Linked DNA regions of Homo sapiens. The protein of the gene in region 2 interacts with the protein of the main gene of each other region in a pairwise test. Each region holds a gene or a part of one and is shown on either strand. Other genes may lie near its edges. The genes, in order: LRCH4 and ELOVL7.

Region 1 (11,053 bases), on a different chromosome or scaffold from region 2:
CGCTGCCTGGCTCAGGGGTCCCTTTCCTGGTCCCGTCCCCATCCTCACAAGCTGTCGCAGGCTTCCCAGGGTGCCGATGTCAGGGGGCAGGGCTCCCAGCTTGTTGTTGCTGACGATGAGGACCCTCAGGGGCAGCTGGCAGATGTAGGGTGGCAGCAGCGACAGCTGGTTTCGGCTGTGGAAGGGAGAAAGGCAGCGGACTGGCTCCCCAGGCATGGCATCCCAGCACTGCCATCCTCTCGGGGTCACTGGGTGGGTCACTCAGTAGTACTTGAGACTGAGAAGCACACGCTCCCACGTGGCCCTGGCTCGGCCTCCCTACCTGAGGTTGAGGTAGGTGAGGGCTGTGAGATTCCCCAAGGCTGGGTTCAGGCATCTCAGGCAATTGTGGTAGAGGCTCAGGCCCTCCAGGGACACCAGCTGGCACGCCGCCTCGGGCACCTCGGGAAACCGGTTCCGGGACAGGTCTGGGGAAAAGGAGGTGTCGGGGAGAGTTGCGGAAAGGCCCAGCCCGGACAGGACCTTCAGTCCCCCCAGAGCCGGCTGCCCACTCCCTCACCTCCACACCTAAAGATTCAAGGCCATCAATGTGGCCTCCCAGGAGAGATAACAAAGCCTTCTGCCAACGGGAGCACATTCCAGGCGTGACCAGAATGGCACAGGGAAGGCAAAGGCCTTAGCGTCACTGGGCTAGAGAAGCCTCAGACTTGGGGGTTGGGGAATGTCAATGGAGGGCTATCCTGGAGAGCAGCTGGAATCTCTAACTCCTGTGGTTCCTGTTCAGAGATGCCAGGTGAGGCGGAGGACCGAAGGTGAGAGGAGGGGTCAGTGCTCATGGGAAAACAGTAAGGCGAGGGGCTGGGGGGCTCCCGGAGGGAAGATGGGAAACCCCTGGGGCAAACCACAGGGAGTGCCCATCCCTCCTCGGGGCCCTTCTTCCCTACTCCAGTGTGTTTTCAACACGGGAAAAACCACAGGTCACTCTATCTTGGTTCTAGAGATAAAGTCCCCGACACCGGACGAGTTTTTCGCCAGCCCCAAGGACCAGCAAGCCAGGTCCAAAGAATCATAAAGTTACTGATTCCCAAGGGCTGGGAGGGAAGGGCAAGAAGACCTGGTTGGAGATGGGAGCTGGAGTTCCCAGGTCCCTCCCATCTGGGCTTCTCTGGCCCAGGGCAGGCATCCTTCCTACCCTCTGCTAGCCCTAGCAGCCCGGCTCTGCTTCCTCTCTTACTGACACAGACTTCAAGAGATCAGCAACTGTGTGAGCATCTCAGGCACGGCGAGGGTGGAGAGTGTGGGAGGGCCTGGGGTCTACAATCGCCCTCTTATCTGGAGCACTGCCTTGCTATGCGGAGGCTGGCAGCCTTGGGATTCCCTGTAGCACGGACCCACTAACGGCTTAGACCTGGAGAAGCCTGCCTTTCTGTTTCCTCGGCCCAGCCTGTCCTGGGAGGGGCCCAGGGCCCGCGAGGCGGAGTCCCAGGCCACAGACCTGGTGAGCTTCTCCAAGGGCCCTTCTCAGGGAAGGGCAGGCCAGCAAAAGCAAGCAGAGGAGAGAAGCCGGGTATATCCCCCAAGGAAATGAGTCTTGTGACAGGAAATGAAGTAGAAACAATCTGTCAGGTTCTGGCTCTGGTAGGCCCCGTGTTTACCAGGGTGGATGACAGCCTGATGCCCCGGGACCCCTTTCTCTTCCTCTCTGCCCAGCCCTGGTGCACAGACAGAAGCCCTGGCCTCAGAGATGACCGTTCTGGAGAGGGTGGGGGGATGGCATTTGCCCCTCCCAGCCTCGCCTCCACCTGCCCGCTTTCTCTGCAAATGTGTTTGTGTGTGTGCATGTGGACGAAGGGGGTGGAGACCGAGTTCTCAGAGTTCTGATGGGGTAGGCGGTGGCGGGGACAAAAGCTAGGAGCGGAAGGGAGCTCAGGCAGGAGGCAGGGCACTGGGGGCACAGGATGTGGTCTGGGAGAGAATGAGCTGCACTTCTCCTTTGCAAGATGGCCCCTCCCCGCCACCTCAGGATTCTTCCTACTATCACCCCAGGGAGCCTAGTCCAAGGGAGATCAGGGACCCAAGACTAGGCGACACGCAGCGAAGACACTCAGAAAGAGATGGGAGACGGGAGGGGAAGGCTCAAGGCAGTCCGGGCAGCAAGGCACTGATGCTTTTCGTCTGCTTGGAGGGCGAGGAGAGATGGAGGGCAGGGTATGGGCAACTGTATGTTTTTGTCACTTCCCCTTTCTGTCCCTGCTTGCGGAGAGGGGACAGAGGAGAGAATTCTGGACAAGAGGGACCCCACTTGGCCTAGAACCTGGGCCCTGTGTAGAGAGTGGGGCAGAGGAGGGTTCTTGGGAAGCTGGGATTTCCGACCCCCCCCCAAGCTCACAGGAGCACGGCTGCACCCTGAGCCGGAATGCTGGGGGAGGAGGGGGCCGGGGGCGGGAGCTGGGAGGGGCCGGGGAGCTCCGGGTAGTTTTCCCCAAGAGTCCACACAGGGAGAGACAGCCTAAGGAAGTAAAGAATAACATTTGGTCTTTGTCAAAAAACAACCAAGGGGGAGGGGAAGGGAACAGACAGTGAGTGTCACACAGCTGCTGAGGTCAATCTGGAGTGTGGGGTTAGGTGGGGGTGGGAGGGAACAGGGCTGTAAGGGGCAGGAATGGCTCCTGGAGCTCACTCATTCCCCATCTCAAGTGTTGCAGAGCAGGCGAGATCAGTGGGGAGGTTTCGACTGGTTCTCCCCAGAAGAGGGAAGAGGATGTGTGCCAGTGCCGGCCTGAGTGTTCCCAGGTGAGCAGGCACCTGCTTAGGGAGAAGTAAGCACTATCCTCCAGCTCTGGTCCCCCACCGTGCAGATGAGAGGAGGAAGAGGCCTGGGCTGGGGTGAGGCTTCGGGAATGCAGTCCTCCTCCCTGATCCTGATCCCCACCCCCAGCTGCCGGCCCAAGGTCATAGGCTGCCTCCTGAGTAGCTGAGGCTTGACTCACCTGTCACAGTTAAGTCCCCCACCCCCTACCATCCACAGACACCAGGGTGGAGGGTGCATGGTTGGACAGATCCTGCGGGTGGAGGCGTGGAAGGACAGTCTCTAGCTGGCCAGCACTCCCAGCTAGGAGATAAGATTTCCTTCCCTCCAGCAACGGCCTCAAGTCCCTCCCCCGGGGGAAAGCAGAAACTGAAATGGGAATTCTAAGATCCCTATGAGGTCACAGGCTCCACAGTGACCTCACAGGCTTAGGAAGGAGGAGGAGGAATCTCAGATAAGCCGGTTGGGGATAATAGGCGGAAGAGCTCAGGGAGAAAAGAGTGAGGGGAGGTAGAGATTTGTTTCTTTCCCATAGGCTGGAGAGCTGCGTGGACAGTGGAGAGGGCCAGGACCTTAGGGGGCGGGGTTGCGGCACAGAAAGCAGAAACCTCGGGCTTAGGGGCCAGTCACTGGGAAGGGGGTGCCCGGGGCTGCTCGGATCTCGGTGGGACGGGGGTTAAGAGGTGTAGATGAAGAGGGAGAGAAAGCAGTTATTAGAGGAGCTCGTGGGGACTGCTTCATAGACCGATTGGAGCTGAGGTTAAGAGATCATGTAAATAAGCCAACCAGGTGAGGGGCGGGACCATCCTACAGGTGCGCAGATATGCAAATAAAGAGAAAGGAGGAATCTCTCCCAACGCTCGGAGGCGCAGGGCGTTCTGTGCAAACGAGAAGCACGTTCATTGTCTAGGGGGTTCTCAAAGATGGGAGAGGATGGCTGCAGGTTTAGGGCAATCAGGAGGGGCAGCAACCCTGGCCGCCAGGTGAAGGGGCGGGCCCGACTCCCGGGCCGGGCGGGGCCCGGGGTGGGGCTATGCAAATGAGGGACCCGGTTGGGCCCGGGGCCCGGCTGCACTCACCAGCCTGGGTGATGTCTGACAGGTCGTAGCTACGGGCCGCGCCCCGGGGGAAGTGCTTCAAGCGCCGGTTAGACAGGTTCAGGGTCCCGGTGGCCACGGCCTCCTCTAGGGCCCGCTCTGCACTGCGTCTCCCCGGCAGACCTGGAGACCCGGGCACGGAGGTCGTGGCTGCCGCCTCCTCACCCCCGGCGGCGAGTGGAGCCGCTACGGCCGCCGCCATCCGCTCCCGGCGGCTCCCGCTGCCTGACTGACGGGACCGGCCGTCCCTCCTTCCCCCACCCCCTCCTTGGAGCCGCCGTAGTTGCCTCAAGGGGGAGGGAGCGGTGTCCGGGACCGGACGGACCAATCGTGGCCCCGAGACGCGTCAGAAGCGGCCAATCAGAACCCGTCAGTGGGGGTGGAGCTCCGGCGCCGGAGTCTGACGAGAGAAGGGAGGGGAACAAGGATAGAGCGCTCGCCAACGGCCGACGCTCCAGGCCGTCCCGCCCAGCGCAGCTGCACCCAATCACAATGCTCAGATCGGGAGGTGGAGCCAATCAGGTCCAACCAAGAGGAGGGGACACCGGCACTCCACTAGCAGGAAAACGGGCCGAGGGACCGCAAGCAGGGGGTGCCTAGTCCTCGTCCCCCAAAGACCAATCGTAAGCCAGATACAGGCGAGTGACTGTCAAGAAGGCCAATTAGAGCCTCCGAAGGGAATCTGGACCTGCCTCTTCTCTGAGGGACGGCTCTACCTACCAATAGCATGGGCGAGAAGGCGGTCCCTTTGCTAAGGAGGAGGCGGGTGAGCTAGAACTTTAAGACTGAGGTTAAGAATGAACGCGGAGCCCCTGGCCGGCCGGGAACGCAGTTCGCCGCTGCAGTGGCGAGTGCGAGCTGGACGTGTTAGGGGGCTAGCCGGCGTCCAGGGCTTGAGGGGATTCGGGCGACTGCTTGAGGCCAGTGCACTGGCGGTTGTCGCAGCTGAAGGGGCAGCGGGGGGACCTCCGACTGTGAAGCCTCTGGCAGGGGTCTCGGGACCCCCGGGCTGGGGGCGGGCGGGGGGCTTCCCAGAGCCTGGAGATGCCCAGCTCGAGGAGGGAGGGTGTAGGTGCAGCGTTGCACGGTCTGCCGTCTCACCCGAGGAGCTCCCCTGGACAGGAATGGAGAGGGGACCAGACCACGGGGTTTTAGAGGCTTAGAAAGGATCTCACCGCCTAGAACACGCCCTTGGTGCTACGAATGCAGAAACTGAGGCAGAGGGAAGTTGATGCGTTAGCAAGAGCGAACAGCAAGTTCCTGACAGCTGGCTTGCTCTAGAAACCAGGTCTCTGGATCCTCCACGCACAGCCCTTTCCCGCTCCCTCAGTTTTCACAGTGGATGTTTTCACTCCCTTCCTCTCTTCCTCCCTCCCTCCCTCTCCCTTCCGTTCCCTTCCTCTTTTTATTTTTTTATTTTTTGAGATGGAGTCTCGCTCAGTCGCCCAGGCTGGAGTGCAGTGGCGCGATCTCGGCTCACAGCAACCTCCACTGTCCGGGTTCAAGCAATTCTCCTGCCTCAGCCTCCCGAGTAGCTGGGACTACAGGCGCCCGCCACCACACCCGGCTAATTTTTTGTATTTTAGTAGAGACGGGGTTTCACCGTGTTGCCCAGGCTGGTCGCAAACTCAGGAGCTCAGGCAATATGCCCTCCTCGGCCTCCCAAAGTGCTGGCATTACAGGCGTGAGCCACCGCGCCCGGCCTTTTTTTTTTTTTTTTTAAGAAGGTCTGATTCTGTCGCCCAGGCTGGAGTGCAGTGGTGCAGTCATGGCTCACTGCAGCCTTGAATGCCTGGGCTCAAGTGATCCTCCTGCCTCAGCCTCCCAAGTAGCTGGGACCACGGGCGGCACCACTGCACCTGGCTAATTTATTTTCAATTTTTGTAGAGATGGGGTTTTGCTATGTTGCCCAGGCTGGTCTCAAACTTTTGACCTCAAGCGATCCTGCCTCTGCCTCCCAAAGTACTGGGATCACAGGCGTGAGCCACCGCACCCGGCCCACAGTGGACTTTTTCTTTCTTTTGAGACAGAGTCGCTCTGTTGCCCAGGCTGGAGTGCAGTGGCTTGATCGCAGCTCACTGCAGCCTCAACCTCCCACCTCAGCCTCCCGAGTAACTGGGACTACAAGCACGCACCACCATGCCAGCTAATTGTATTTTTTGTAGAGACAGGGTCCTACTATGTTGCCCAGGCTGATCTCAAACTCCTGGGCTCAAGCAATGCTCCCACCTCGGCCTCCCGAAGTGCTGGGATTATAAGCGTGAGCCACAAAGCCTGGCCCACAGTGGACTTTTTCTATTCACAACCTCTCGTTTGCCTCCTGGGGTGAAATGGAGTGGATAAAGGGGACCCAAATGCAAGAGGAATGGAAAATACCTTTCTGTCTACTTGGAGATCTTCCTTTCTAAGTGGCATGAGTCCCTAATGCAGTCCCCTCCCTATGTGGTAGGTTGCCCAGAAATAAGTCACTGAAGTTGCTTTCTCCTTAGTTCACATCTCAGAGGTTGATATTCCTGAGTAGTTGCTGAAGAATTAAAATTCCATCTCAGGCATCCCAGCCTAGCCATGGCTAGGCACCATACATAAGGGAATTTGGGTGGTCAGTCTGGTGCAGTCAATGAACGGATCTGTGACACTGTGTGGTGAGGGCTGGTGGTCTGGCAGGATGGGACTCCTTTGAGCCCCTGCAAGAGCCAGCCACTCCTTGGATTTATTGGTGTAGATCTGGCCTGAGTGGGACAGACACAACCCTGACCCCTGCTGTTTCTCCTGATAAATGTCACCCCACATAAGACAAAGCTAATATCAGAGACCCTGGGAGAAATCCTAAGCTTTCAGAGGAAATCCATCCCTTTCTCCCACCTTAATAGGTTGTCCTTTATACATGCAATGATGTTACTGTCCCTCAGGAAAGCAAAAGCAGTCTTCTTTTTTGTTTGTTTTTTTTGAAACTGGGTATCATTCTCGCCCGGGCTGGAGTGCAGTGGCACGATCATAGCTCACTGCTGCCTCAAACTGGGCTCAAGCAATCCTCCTGCCTCAGCCTCCTGTGTAGCTGGGACTACAGGGGTGCATCACCACGCCTGGGTAATTTTTAAGTTTTTTTTTTTTTTTAATAGACGCAGGGTCTATGTTGACCAGGCTGGTCTTGAAACCCATGGCCTCAAGCCATCCTTGCACCATGGCCACCCAAAAGTGCTGGGATTTCGGGCGTTAGCCACCGGCACCAGGCTGCAGTCTCCTTTTGGATGTGTTTTTTCACAAGTCTAAAGAGTTTGCTGAATCATTTGTGAGCTAAACGATTATTAGCACAGTCACCTCTCCATCTCACCTGTCAAACTGAGTTTATAGTTTTTTGAGTCTATACTCTTGAGCTACCAATCCCTAGAGGCCTTGGCCTGCTGAAATGTGAGGAATTCACTAGTGTTTCTCTACAGAGTTAGTGCTAAAAGGGCCTCAAATAGGAAAACTTCCTCCTGCTCCCTGAAATAAAGATGTCACCTACCAGTAATTCACACTTTATTTCTCCAGTAAAATGCATATCCCTTGAGCCATGTGATGGCTAGAACTGAGCTAGAACCCAGGAGCTGTCTAAGAGATGGGTCCTGGGCAAGATTAAAGGGAACAGGTCACAGTGGCCAAACAGTGAGGTCACAGAGAGGTTTGTTAGCCCCAGACTCCATGGGGGAGGGGCCTAGGAGGCAGAGGGGCCTCAGAGGTCCCCCAAGCCTAGGCTGGGGACATGGTGTGGGAAAGCCAGCAGGAACGGGGGGGCCAAGGGCCTAGGAGACAGGAGGGCAGGAGCAGGGAGGGGGCAATCAGGATGGTCAGGGGAAGCCAGAGACGGAAGCTGCAAAAATTCACCAGGCTGTGTGGACGGGAGGAGGGGCTCCGGGTGAGGGGGATTGGCCGCAGGAGATCGGGAGGAGTTATTTGGAGAAGTTAGGGATGGGTCTGGAGAGAGAGGGGAGGAAATAACTGTGCCCAGCTAGAGTCAGATGAGCCCCAAGGTAGGCGGAGAGAAGGGAAAAAAGGATGTGGGACCCTCATGGGACCCTATGCACCCCTTCTTGGGTAGGTGAAGAGAAGCTGCCCTTCTTGTGGCTCGGAGCTTGGGGTTGAAGAGAAGAGGGGGAAAGGAAATCCGATTTCCATCCAGTTGTTCCCCCCAGAGCTGGTGAGTCCTTGGGGAGGGGGATTGAGAATAATAGGATTGGGGGCCAGATCACCGAGGGGCCACCAAAGACTCCCCGCTTCTTCCCTCCTCCCTCCCAGGTGGAGCATATCATCTCATTCCTCCCAGTCAGAGACCTTGTTGCCCTCGGCCAGACCTGCCGCTACTTCCACGAAGTGTGCGATGGGGAAGGCGTGTGGAGACGCATCTGTCGCAGACTCAGTCCGCGCCTCCAAGATCAGGGTTCTGGAGTCCGGCCCTGGAAGAGAGCTGCCATTCTGAACTGTACACCTTCCCCAGAACCTCCCGTTCTCCTTGCCTCTGTCCCGCCTTAGCCTTCCTGCTCTCTAAAGTCCCCTGATGACCCCCACACTCCCAACAGTGCTTCCAGGGCCCCTTTCTCCGGAAGAAACGGGTCCAGTTCAAACATTCTCCCTTGAGTACTTCCTCCAAGTCTTCGGAATCCACCCACAGCCCCCGTTAGCGGCCTCCCTGCCAAGTCTCCCTCTGTACACAGACACTTCCCGCTTTTTCCCTAGAGGCATCCCTCACTCCCCAAACCTGGAGTTTTCCCTCCTCTAACCCAAGGCTTCTGAACTCACTGTTGATATTCTGGGCAAAATAATTCCTTGATGTGGGGAGCTGTCCTCTGCATGGTGGGATGTTTAAGCAGCAACCCTGGCCTCCACCCACCAGATGGCCAGCAGCATCCCCCTTAATTGTGACAACCAATGCCCTTGAAGGACAAAATCACCCCTAGCCTGAGAACCATGCCATAAACCCTCTTCCCCTCCAGGGATCCCCCAGGGTGTACTTCTTACACTCACTGGGAGATTAAAAGAGAAGGGGGACCCAGAAAACAGATCCAAAGCTAGGGGTGAGGGAGGATGACCGGCCTTCATCAATCATTCCTTTTCACTCCTGTTTCTGTCTCTTCTCTTTTCTTTCTTTTTCTTTGATTTTTTTTTTTTTTTTTTTTTTTTGAGACAGGGTCTTGCTCTGTCACCCAGGCTGGAGCACAGTGGTGCAATCTTGGCTCAATGCAACCTCCACCTCCCGGGTTCAAGTATTCTCGTGCCTCAGCCTCCTGAGTAGCTGGGATTACAGGCTCCCGCCACCACACCCGGATAATTTTTGTATTTTTAGTAGAGATGGGGTTTTGCCACGTTGCCCAGGCTGGTCTCAAACTCCTGGGCTCCCAAAGTGCTGGGATTACAGGCGTGCAAAAATTCACTGAGCTGTGAGGATGGGAGGAGGGGCTCAGGGTGAGGGGGGTGGATGCCGCACGCAGCCTCTGTGTCTTTATTCTTAGAGTTTTCCTCAACATCACTGATGCAAGGTTGCACCAAAGAACTGCTCACTAAGAAGCAAATGTTTGACCCTGGGCTGAGGTGGGGTGGAGACTAAAGTTCACATGTCGAGTATAATCTAAGCTTATTTTCCACATCTCCTTCATAAGGGGTCTGTTTGTTCCCCTGTCCTGGGGATGGGGAGGAACTACAAACCAGCGTGTCTAAGAAATCTACCCAAGCTCCAACTCATCTCCCTCGTGTCATCTCATCCCTTGAACCTTCCATCTCCTTCCTTCCTCCAGACACGAAGGGCCTGTATTTCCAGGCATTTGGAGGCCGCCGCCGATGTCTCAGCAAGAGCGTGGCCCCCTTGCTAGCCCACGGCTACCGCCGCTTCTTGCCCACCAAGGATCACGTCTTCATTCTTGACTACGTGGGGACCCTCTTCTTCCTCAAAAATGCCCTGGTCTCCACCCTCGGCCAGATGCAGTGGAAGCGGGCCTGTCGCTATGTTGTGTTGTGTCGTGGAGCCAAGGATGTGAGTAGCAGAACCCTGGCAGCTGAGAGCCCACCTGTATTAGTCCATTTTCACACTGCTATAAAGACGTACCAGAGGCCGGGTGCAGTGGCTTACACCTGTAATCCTAGCACTTTGGGAGGCTGAGGCAGGCGGATCAGCTGAGACCAGGAGTTCGAGACCAGCCTGGCCAAATGGCGAAACCCGTCTCTACTAAAAATACAAAAATTAGCTGGGTGTGGTGGTGGGTGCCTATAATTCCAGCTACTTGGGAGGCTGAGGCAGGAGAATTGCTTGAACTTGGGAGGCAGAGGCTGCAGTGAGCTGAGATCGCACCCTTGCACTCCAGCCTGGGCAACAAGAGGGAGACTCCGTCTCGAAAAAAAAAGACATACCTGAGACCGGGTAATTTATAAGGCAAAGAGGTTTAATTGACTCATAGTTCCACATGACTGGGGAGGCCTCAGGAAACTTACAATCATGGCAGAAGGGAAAGAGGCACGTCTTACATGGCAGCAGGCGAGAGCACACAAGCAAGAGCAGGGAAAACTGCCTTATAAATCCGTCAGACCTCGTGAGAACCCACTATCACGAAAACAACATGGGGGAAATTGCCCCCGTGAGCCAATCACCTCCCACTGGGTATTACAATTCGAGATGAGATTTGGGTGGGGGCACAGAGCCTAACCATATCACCACCTCTCTTTTGAGGACCCAGGCCCCCATCAGTCTTGAGGTGTCTTTCCTATGACTTCTGCCCTCCCACATAGGAACCTGAAATCAAGGGCTCATTTCCCAACTCTGGACCCAAGCATTTCACTTCCCACCCCAGGATCCAGCTGCCCCAGCCCCATCCCATTTTGAAACTCTAGATCCCAGACGCCCTCATCTTTTCCCCCAGTTTGCCTCGGACCCAAGGTGTGACACAGTTTACCGTAAATACCTCTACGTCTTGGCCACTCGGGAGCCGCAGGAAGTGGTGGGTACCACCAGCAGCCGGGCCTGTGACTGTGTTGAGGTCTATCTGCAGTCTAGTGGGCAGCGGGTCTTCAAGATGACATTCCACCACTCAATGACCTTCAAGCAGATCGTGCTGGTTGGTCAGGAGACCCAGCGGGCTCTACTGCTCCTCACAGGTGTGGCCCAAAGCAATGGCTTTTGCAA
Region 2 (10,355 bases):
CCTGCTGTGTGCAGCCTAGGGACTTGATGCCCTGCATTCCAGCTGCTCCTGGAATGGCTAAAAAGGGCCAAGGTGCAGCTTGGGCCATGGCTTCAGAGGGTGCAGGCCCCAAGCTTTGGCAGCTTCTCCATGGTGTTGAGCCTGTGAATGCACAGAAGTCAAGAATTGAGGTTTGGGAACCTCTACCTAGATTTCAGAGGATGTATTGAAACTCCTGGATGTCCAGGCCGAAGTTTGCTGCAGAGGTAGAGCCCTCATGGAGAGCCTCTACTAGGTCAATGTGGAAGAGAAATGTGGGGTCAGACCCCAAACACCTAGTCCCCACTTGGGCAGTGCCTAGTGGAGCTGTGAGAAGAGGGCCACCATCCTCCAGACCCCAAAATGCTAGATCCATTGACAGCTTGCACTGTGCACCTGGAGAAGCCACAGACAGTCAGTTCCAGCCAGTGAAAGCAGCAGGAAAGGGGGCTGTACCCTGCAAAGCCACAGAGGCAGAGCTGCCCAAGGCCATGGGAGCCCACCTCTTGCACCAGTATGACCTAGATGTGAGACGTGGAGTCAAAGGTGATCATTGTGGAGCATTGAGATTTAATGACTGCCCTACTGGATTTTGGACTTGCATGGGGCCTGTAGCTCCTTTGTTTTGGCCAATTTCTGCCATTTGGAATGGGTATATTTATGCAGTGCCTGTATCCCCATTGTATCTGGAAAATAACTAACTTGCTTTTGATTTTACAGGCTCATAGGCAGAAGGGACTTGCCTTGTCTCAGATGAGACTTTGGATTTGGACTTTGAGTTAAAGCTGGAATGCATTAAGACTTTTGGGGATTGTTCGGAAGGCATGATTGTGTTTTGAAATGTGAGGACATGAGATTTGGGAGGGCCCAGGGACAGAATGATATGGTTTGACTGTATCCCCACCCAAATTTCATCTTGAATTATAGTTCCTATAATCCCCACATGTTATGGAGGGACCTAGTGGGAGATAAGTGAATCATGGGTACAGTTTCCCTGTGCTGTTCTCATGATTGTTTCTCACAAGAGCTGATGGTTTTATAATTGTCTGGCATTTCCCCTGCTGGCACTCATTCTCTCTCCTGCCACTTCATGAAGAGGTGCCTTCTGCTGTGATTGTAAGTTTCCTGACGTCTCCCAGGCCATGCAGAACTGTGAGTCAATTAAACCTCTTTCCTTGATAAATTACCCAGTCTCGGGTATTTCTTCATAGCAGTGCATGAGTGGACTAATACAATGATGTTCATGTATTTAAGGTTTGCACTACCCACTTATAGAAGAAATCTATCAAAGTTTGATCAGTTCTAATTTTTTCCCTTGGTCCCTGGTTCTGTGACAACTTTTATTTATGGAGACTTCCTTTGTGACATACAGACCCATAGCAAGCCTTCCTTGTGGTGGTTTTAATTGCACAAAACAACGAGACATCCTAGAAAGCTTGCCATTGTTAAAAGCAAGGAGGGGAACCAATAGAAGCAGTAAAAGATTTCAGTGATGTGTACCTGGGTAGCTGATTTCAAAGTTTTTCCTGATTTAGAACTGTGACAAATCTTAATATGAGAAAATACTTCCGAAATTATAGAACTTTATGTTTTGAAAAGTGTCTGTCATCAAACTTTTGTTTAATTTCTATTTTGTGCATGACACCTTGTTAAAATTATTCTGCTGAGAGCATCAGAGACGTCCTTTTGTTAAATGTAGTGGCATTTTTCTGTCCCCATTTTATTTCCCCTTTCTGCCACACTTAATGCTTTGACTCCTTCCGAAAATCCACTCTTCCCTGGCTTCAGGATATCTCACTTTTATGGTTTTCCCTCTACTTCTCTAGCTGTTCCTTTTTGGTTTTTATGTTTTTTCCTTCAGTAATTCCTTCTGTGAATGCTGAGTCCTCAGGATCCTGACTTCAGCACTTACTCTCCTTACTGTACCCACTTAGCCTAAGCCAATCTCACTGCTTTTATTGTTCATCATTTATGTGATGGCAACCCTCAATCTTATATCTCTGGCACAGATCTCTCTCCTAATTCTAGATCCATATATCCAGCTGCTTATGAAAGACTTCATATGAATGTTTTAAAGGCAGTCTAAGTGTAAGATGTTTTAAAACATAAGCCACCTCTGCTTGACCAATATTGCTCCTAATCCTGTGTTCCCAATCTAAGTGAATTTAAAGATCTGAGTATTTTTCTTTTAAAAATTTTTTTTTTAATTTTTGCGGGTAAATAGTAGGTGTATATATTTATGGAATACATAAGATGTTTTGATACAGGCATGCAATATGTAATAATTATATCATGTAAAATGGGGGTATCCATCCCCTCAAGCATTTATCCTTTGGGTTACAAATAATCCAATTATATTTTAAAACATACATTTAAATTATTATTGACTATAAGTCAGCCTGTCGTGCCACCAAATACTAGGTCTTATTCATTCTATTTTCTTTGTACCCATTAGCTATTCCCACCTCCCCCCCAACCCCCCTAGTACCCTTCCTAGCCTCTGGCAACCACCCTTCTACTCTATCTCCATGGACTTAATTGTTTTGATTCTTACATCCCACATATAAGTGAGAAATCTGAATATTTTTCTTAACATTTACCTATTTCCATTCCCTGTGTTTAACCAATTATAAATTTTTATATTTTCTTCTTCCTTACTGTATTTCAAAATAATCTCCTATTTATCTGTCACTATCACTACCTGTTTTTAAAATTTTTATTTTAGATTCAGGTGGTACACGTGCAAGTTTATAACTAGGCTATATTGTCTGATGCTGAGGTTTGGGCTTCTAGTGATTGCATCATGAATATAGTGAACATAGTACTTAAAAGTATGTTTTTCAGCCCTTGTCCCCTTCCTTCCCTCCCACATTTTGGATTCTTCAGTCTGTTGTTCCCATCTATACCTGCATGTACCCAAGACTTAGCTCCCACTTATAAGTGAGAACATGTAGCATTTGGTTTTGCATTTCTGTGTTCATTTGCTTAGGATAATGGTCTCCAACTACGTTCATGTTGCTGCAAAGGATATGATTTTGTTCTTTTTAATGACTGCATAGTACTCCACAGTATATATGTACCACATTTTCTTTATCCAATCCACCATTAATGGGCACCTAGGTTGATTACATGTCTTTGCTGTTATGAATAGTCCTGCAGTGAACATGCAAGTGTATGTATATTTTTGGCATTTTCCTTTCAGTATGTACCTAATAGTGGAATTGCTGGGTTGAATAATAGTTCTATTTGCAGTTTTTTGAGAAATCTCCAAACTGCTTTCCACAATGGCTGAACTAATTTGCATTTCCACCAACAGTGTATAAGCATTCCCTTTTCTCCACAGCCTCAACAACTTCTGTAATTATTTGACTTTTTAATGTTTGTTGGCCGCTTGTATGTCTTCTTTTGTGAAGTGTCTGTTCATGCTCTTTGCCCACTTTTTAATGAAGTTATTTATTTTTTCTTGTTGATTTAAGTTTCTTGTGGATTCTGGATATTAGTCCTGTTGGATGCATAGTTTGTGTTTTCTCCCAGTCCATAGGTTGTCTGTTTACTCTGTTAGTTTCTTTTGCTGTGCAAAAGCTCTTTAGTTTAATTAGGTCTTAATTGTTGATTTTTATTTGTGTTGCAATTGCTTTTGAGGACTTGGTCATAAAGCCTTTGCCAAGGCCAGTGTCCAGAAGAGTGTTTCCTAGGTTAGGTTTTCTCCTGGGATTTTTATAGTTTTAGGTCTTGCATTTAAGTCTTTAATCCATCTTAAGTTAATTTTTGTGTATGGTGGTAGGTAGTGGTCCAGTTTCAGTCTTCTGCATATGATTAGCCAGTTTTCCTAGCACCATCTATTGAATAGGGAGTCCTTTCCCCATTGCTTATTTTCATTGACTTTGTTGAATATCAGTTGGTTTTAGGTATGCTCCTTTATTTCTGGGTTTTCTGTTCAGTTCCATTGGCCGATGTGTCTATTTTTATATCAATACCATGCTGTTTTGGTTACTGTAGCCGTGTAGTACAGTTTGAAGTAAGATAATGTGATGCCTCCAGCTTTGTTCTTTTTGCTTAAGATTGCTTTGGCTATTTGGGCTCATTTTTGGTTTTCTATGAATTTGAGAATAGTTTTTTCTAATTTTGTAAAAAATAACATTGGTAATTTGATAGGAATAGCATTGAATCTTTAGATTGTTTTGAACAGTATGGACATCTAACAATGTTGATTTTTCTAATCCATGAGCATGGAATGTTTTTCCATTTGTATTTTCCATGATTTCTTTCAGCAGTGTTTTGTAATGCTCCTTGTACAGATCTTTTACTTCCTTGGTTAGATGTATTCCTATGTGTTTTATTTTTTGTGCTTGTGGTTATTGTAAATAGGATTGCATTCTTGATTTGGCTGTCAGCTTGAGGGTTGAAGAGCTGTTCCAAGCTCTTAAGGATAATGCTTTGGTGCATAGAAATGCTACTGATTTTCATACATTGATTTTGTATCCTGTAACTTTACTGAATTCATTTATCAAATATAAGAGTTTTGGCTGGGTGTGGTGGCTCATGCCTGTAATCCCAGCACTTTGGGAGGCCAACGTGGGCAGATCACGAGGTCAGGAGTTTGAGACCAGCCTGGCCAACAAGGTGAAACCCTGTCTCTACTAAAAATACAAAAATTAGCTGGGCATGGTGGCGGGCACCTGTAATCCCAGCTCCTCAGGAGACTGAGGCAGGAGATTCACTTGAACCCAGGAGGCAGAGGTTGCAGTGAACCAAGATCATGCCATTGCATTCCAGCCTGGGCGACAAGAGCAAGACTCCGTCTCAAAAAAAAAAAAAAAAAAGAGAGTTTTATGGTGGAGTTGGTAGGTTTTTCTAGGTAGAAGATCATATCATCAGCAAGCAGGGATAATTTTACTTCCTCTTTTCCAATTTTGATGCCTTTTATTTCTTTCTCTTGCCTGATTGCTCTGGCTAGGACTTCTAGTACTATGTTGAATAGGAGTGGGCATCCTTGTCTTGTTGCAGCTCTTAAAGATAATACTTCCAGCGTTTGCCCATTAGGTATGATGTTGGCTGTGGGTTTGTCATAGATGGCCCTTATTATTTGAGGTATGTTCCTTTAATGTCTAGTTTGTTGAGGGTTTTTATCATGAATAGATGTTAGATTTTATTGAAAACTTTTTCTGCATCTATTGGGATAATCATATGGTTTTTGTTTTTAATTCTGTTTATGTGGTGAGTCACATTTATTGACTTGAATATGTTGAACCAACTTTGCAGCTCAGGAATAAAGCCCACTTAATCGTGGTGAATTAACTTTTTGATGTGTTCCTGGATTCACCTGGCTAGTTTGTTGAGGATTTTTGCATCTATGTTCATGAGAGATATTGGCCTGTAGTTTTCTTTTTTGTCATTGTTGTTGTTGTTGGTGTGTCTTTGCCAGATTTTGGTGTCAGGATGATACTGGTTTCATAGAATGAGTTAGGGAGGAATCTCTCCTCCTCAATTTTTTGGAATAGTTTCAGTAGGATTGGTACTAGCTCTTCTTTGTATGTCTGACCACCTACTCTTCAGTCATTTAATTTATAAATTTATTTTAGTGTTCCACAGAACATTAGTTTCATAAGATGTTAAATAACATTCTACAAAAAAAATAGTGTTTTTTGGCCAAATACGTTTGGAGAATATGGCATACTGCCATTCCCATCGTGGCAATTCATGATGAACATGAAGCATTAAGAAATCCTGCAGTAATGCAACCTGTTTGTTTAACCCAGCATTCCAGTATTCCCCAATTCTTTGTGGAAAGTCTTTAAATAGCTTGTTTCCATGCATAGTTTGGAATATTCTTGTTTGTATAGGATATAAGATAAGAAACAAACTCATTTTTCTCCCAAGCAGTCAGTTTTCCTATCAACATTTGTTGAAGATCTCTTCCTTCCCTGCTTGTTTCTGGGACTTCCTTAATCATATATTAAATTCTTAAATGTCCTGGGATCTAGTCTGGAGCTGACTCTTGACTCTTTGGCTTTATTTCTTTATTTTTTTTGAGAGGGGCCTCTGCCAGTATTTTTGAGGGAGGCTTATTTGAATGCAGAATAATCACCCATGCACATCTGATAGTCAAATGTAAGCACTCCAGCACTAAAATTGAGGCCAAGTGAGTTATCAGTCATAGAGTCCTACTGAAGAAATTTTGAGTGGGAAGTCACACTTGCAGGGGTATTCAGAATTTGTCAGTGCTTGGCCACATCATTAGCAGCTTAAAAGAGCAAGAGCTACATTCTCCCTACCCTTCTTTTCCAATTGATAAAAGTGACAGTAGTTAGCATCCTGAGGTTAGTCATGGCATAATTTTGAGTCAGGTCCTTCTGGGAACTTGTCCTTACTTCCTTTCCTTCATAATACTCTAGCTTCATGAGGCCATTTAGTAAAATTAAACCTGAACTACTAGAAATTATAGACTTAATCACATTTCATCCTGAGTTGTAATTTTTTATTCATCCATCTCTGCTGGCCTGGAGCTGGCAGTAAGCAGATAAGTTTTTGTTTGCAATTGTGAGACCGTGCATTTTTTTTGCTCAGAATATCACAGTTGTTAGCTCACATGGACTCCAAAATCCCATACTTTAGCTACTTAGAGGATGTTCAGCCTTTCTATTCTGTGATCCTGTGATACAGTATATGTGGAAGTGTGCCAGTTTTCCTGGGGAAGGAAAAAAATTAAGCAGCAAACACAAACTTTTTTTAATATATAAAAGCATGTATGGATGGAAAAACTCCAAGATATTAATAATGACTATAGACACATGGTGGGATGTTGCTGGGTGTTCTCTCTTCCAGATAGCTTTGCACCCTGTGCTGGGCCCTGGAGAACGATCCATGAAGACTGTATCCTTGGGTTTGCTCCCCTGCCGTATGCTTTCTGGTTAGATTCAGCCAGTGGAGAGAGGGAGGAGAGTGGAGTTGGGGTATCTATTCCTCTGGCGCCATACTTACAGAATTGTCTTGGGCTGGCTGAATCCCTCAACTGACAGTCAAAACTTGTCTTAGCATACTCAGGATGCTTAAGAAATTATCATAGACTGGGTAGTTTATAAGCAGTGGAAATTTATTTCTCACATTCAGAGGGTGGAAGTCTGAGATCAGGGTGCCAGCACGGTCGGGTACTAGTGAGGACCCTCTTCCAGGTTGCAGACTGCCATCTTCTCATTGTATCCTTACATGGGGAAAGAGGGCAGGAGAGCTCCCTGGGGTGCCTTTTATAAGGGCACTAATACCATCATGCAGGCGATCAGTGCATAATACAGCTCCTCTCCCACTGTTTCTAGCCCCAGGATACTTCCTTATTCCTGTTGATTTCTTTTTCACCTTTCTAAAGATACTAGTGATCACTGCCCAAATAGCTCACAGTTAATAGTAGGATCTGGGTGCTCAGTTAAAGAAATGTTGGTTGCTGTTAGTTACCCCTTGGCTAAGCAGGTGTGTACTCACATATTGTTTTTCTCTTAGATCCAAGAGTTGAAGATTGGCTCCTCATGTCCTCGCCTCTGCCACAAACCATCCTCCTAGGATTCTATGTCTATTTTGTCACTTCCTTGGGACCAAAGCTCATGGAAAATCGCAAGCCCTTTGAACTCAAGAAAGCAATGATAACGTACAATTTTTTCATAGTACTCTTTTCTGTGTATATGTGTTATGAGGCAAGTGTCTTCAGTATTCCTAATGGGAGAATTTTGCCTGAGTTTTTCTGTTTATGTGTCATTATGTTTTCTGTTATAAGGGTAAACTTTGCAATTTAAGGAATTAAGAAACTGATCTCACTAGAGCAGGTATTTGCCAAAATAGTGTTAGGTATAGACCAAATAATAAACTCATTTGAGGATCTCAGTATAATCTGTCTCACAGATAATGAGAAAAACTAACATCTATTCCATGGATTTGTACATAATTGCCTTAATGGATTATTGAATTAATCCATAAATTTTAGTTTTGAGGAAACTCTTAAAGTAACATAGCTGGTAAGTGGAGGGCTGATATTTGAACCCAGGTCTGTCTGACATCAGAGTTCATCTTGACTCAGTAAAAAGTTGTCATCATCATGGTAGGCACCTTTGGTTTCTGGATACTCTGATGAACTATGGGATGGTAGACTGTTTTGGTTAGTTTAGCTGGGCTTTGTGGGGACAGAGAGCATAGACTCATATAAAGCAGTAGGTGAGGGAGCCTGTTCCTTAATTTTTTTCCCATTAACTCATTAATTCATTACTGTCCCTTAATTGTTAATAAGAGAGATGGGGCTCTTCCAGGACCCTAAAACAGATTCATGAATTCTCTCTCTTCCCCTGTGCTATTAACATGCCTCAGCCACCCCCATGTATGTTCTTTTCTGAGATTCCTTCCTTCTTTTCCAACTCTGGCTGGCTTCATTATCCTTTTTTATTAACTTCCTCTATAGCATAACTGGTGCTTAATCATAAGTAGGGCTCACGAGGGCCCAATATGGGCCCACTGACCTCTCCTGGCACCATAGTTTCTCCACATGCATTCTGACCTGACTCTTGCTACAGATCCATCATATCGATCACTTTAAATCTACTGTGGCTGGCCAGGTGTGGTGGCCTACACCTGTAATCCCAGCACTTTGGTAGGCTGAAGTAAGAGGATTGCTTGGGCCCAGGAGTTTGAGACCAGCCTGGACAACATAGGGAGACCTTGTGTCTACAAAAAATACAAAAAAATTAGCCAGGCGTGGCGGTGCACGCCCGTGGTCCCAGCTGCTTGGGAGGCTGAGGTGAGAGGATCACTTGAGCCTGGGAGGTCAAGGCTGCAATGAGCCGTGATCATGTCTAGTGACGGAGCAAGACCCTGTCTCAAAAAATAAAAATAAAAAAAATACTCTGGCCTTATTTCTCACAGTCCTCCCTATAGTCTGGACTCACTCTGCTGCTTTCCATTTCTTCTATTTTATTTTGAAAATTAACTCACAGGCCACTCTTAATGTCCCTTCAGGAGTATGAGCAACTGAGAGGAAAAGAGTGATAGAGATGGGAGCAAAGAAAACACAAGGTCCTAGCATGGTCTTAGGGGACAGCATGTTGTAGTAAGGTGTTAAGAACATACCTGGAAGCCAGGAGATTAGGAACTAGTTAGTTCTGCTTCTGCCACTGACTGGCTGCCTGAATTTTAGCAAGTTATTTAACCTCTCTGGGCCTCAGTTCTCTCGTTTTATAAAGATAGGATTGAACCAAATAGTCTCTCAGATCCCTCCTTGCTCTCATATTCTTAGGGTCTATGTCTGATTTGTCATTGAGTGTAATGTACCCAAATATATTTCTCAGGCTTGGAAAGAATCCAGTCATCGCCAGTCAGCTTTGATTCCTACTTGATCAATTACAATGTAAAAGAAGATTTTAAAATATCTGAATTTGAGAGTTTCTGACTCTCATTTACTGCTAATACTTGAGTTACTTATGTGTCAGTTTCAGGAACTACCTGCCAAATATAAATTATTACTTTCTGAATTCAGGGAATTCTTTTTTTTTTTTTTTTCACCAGAAAGGGTCTCGCTCTGTCACCCAAGCTGGAGTGCAGTGGCACGATCTTGGCTCACTGCAGCCTTGACCTCCCAGGCTCAAGTGATCCTCCCACCTCAGCCTCCCAAGTAGCTGAGACTACAGGCATGCGCCACTATGTCTAGCTAATTTTTTGTATTTTTTGTAGAGATGGTGTTTTGCCATGTTTCCCAGACTGCTCTCAAACTCCTAGACTCTAGTGATCCACCTGCCTGAGCCTCCCAAAGTGCTAGGATTACAGGTGTGACCCACTGGGCCTGGCCTAATTTTTCTTATTACTAGCCTGGAATATAGACATATATGTAAAAAGTTCCACAAGCTGTTGGAATGTTCTTAAACTTTCTACTCTATTTAAACAAAGGCTTTTGATAGCCACACAGCATGCCATCCATCTGTTGATGGCACATCCGAACACATGGTTTATTGTATGGAGTATGATTTCATTTGGTTTACAAAGCAAACACCTCTACCAATGATGTTAGGCCAAATCTGAAGAAGTTGAAAGGGAAGGACATCAGACTCAAGAAACTCAGATGCCTTCTTGTGTAGTGATTGTTTGAAAGTGCTAGTTACTTGGCAGCAGTCAGACACTAGCAGAGACCACTTAAGACCCAACAGAAGGCCAAGTCTCACAACTTTCATTCGACACAGTGCTTGTTTGGGGTAGGGTAAGGTGGAGAATTATTCATCACAATTCCAGTAAATAGCTCCTGGCCACAGAGCGTTACATTAGTCAAAAATGAGTCTGAGCACAAGAGAATATGAGGACACTCACTGACA

Evidence for each region.
Region 1: the proteins of ELOVL7 (region 2) and LRCH4 interact in binary tests that used the Homo sapiens proteins (3 or more experiments, as listed by UniProt).

The regions. Positions count from the first base shown.
Region 1 is NC_000007.14:100,581,993-100,593,045, forward strand, and holds the start of LRCH4 (leucine-rich repeat and calponin homology domain-containing protein 4), read right to left. Parts: upstream 4,138-11,053; 5' UTR 4,109-4,137; coding exon 3,889-4,108; intron 468-3,888; coding exon 323-467; intron 176-322; coding exon 49-175; intron 1-48. Other genes in the region: FBXO24 (F-box only protein 24), read left to right, coding at 7,649-7,801, 7,985-8,083, 8,182-8,365, 9,675-9,910, 10,791-11,025. UniProt on the Homo sapiens protein: Accessory protein that regulates signaling by multiple TLRs, acting as a broad-spanning regulator of the innate immune response. In macrophages, binds LPS and promotes proper docking of LPS in lipid raft membrane. May be required for lipid raft maintenance.
Region 2 is NC_000005.10:60,769,251-60,779,605, reverse strand, and holds part of ELOVL7 (very long chain fatty acid elongase 7), read left to right. Parts: intron 1-7,512; coding exon 7,513-7,703; intron 7,704-10,355. UniProt on the Homo sapiens protein: Catalyzes the first and rate-limiting reaction of the four reactions that constitute the long-chain fatty acids elongation cycle.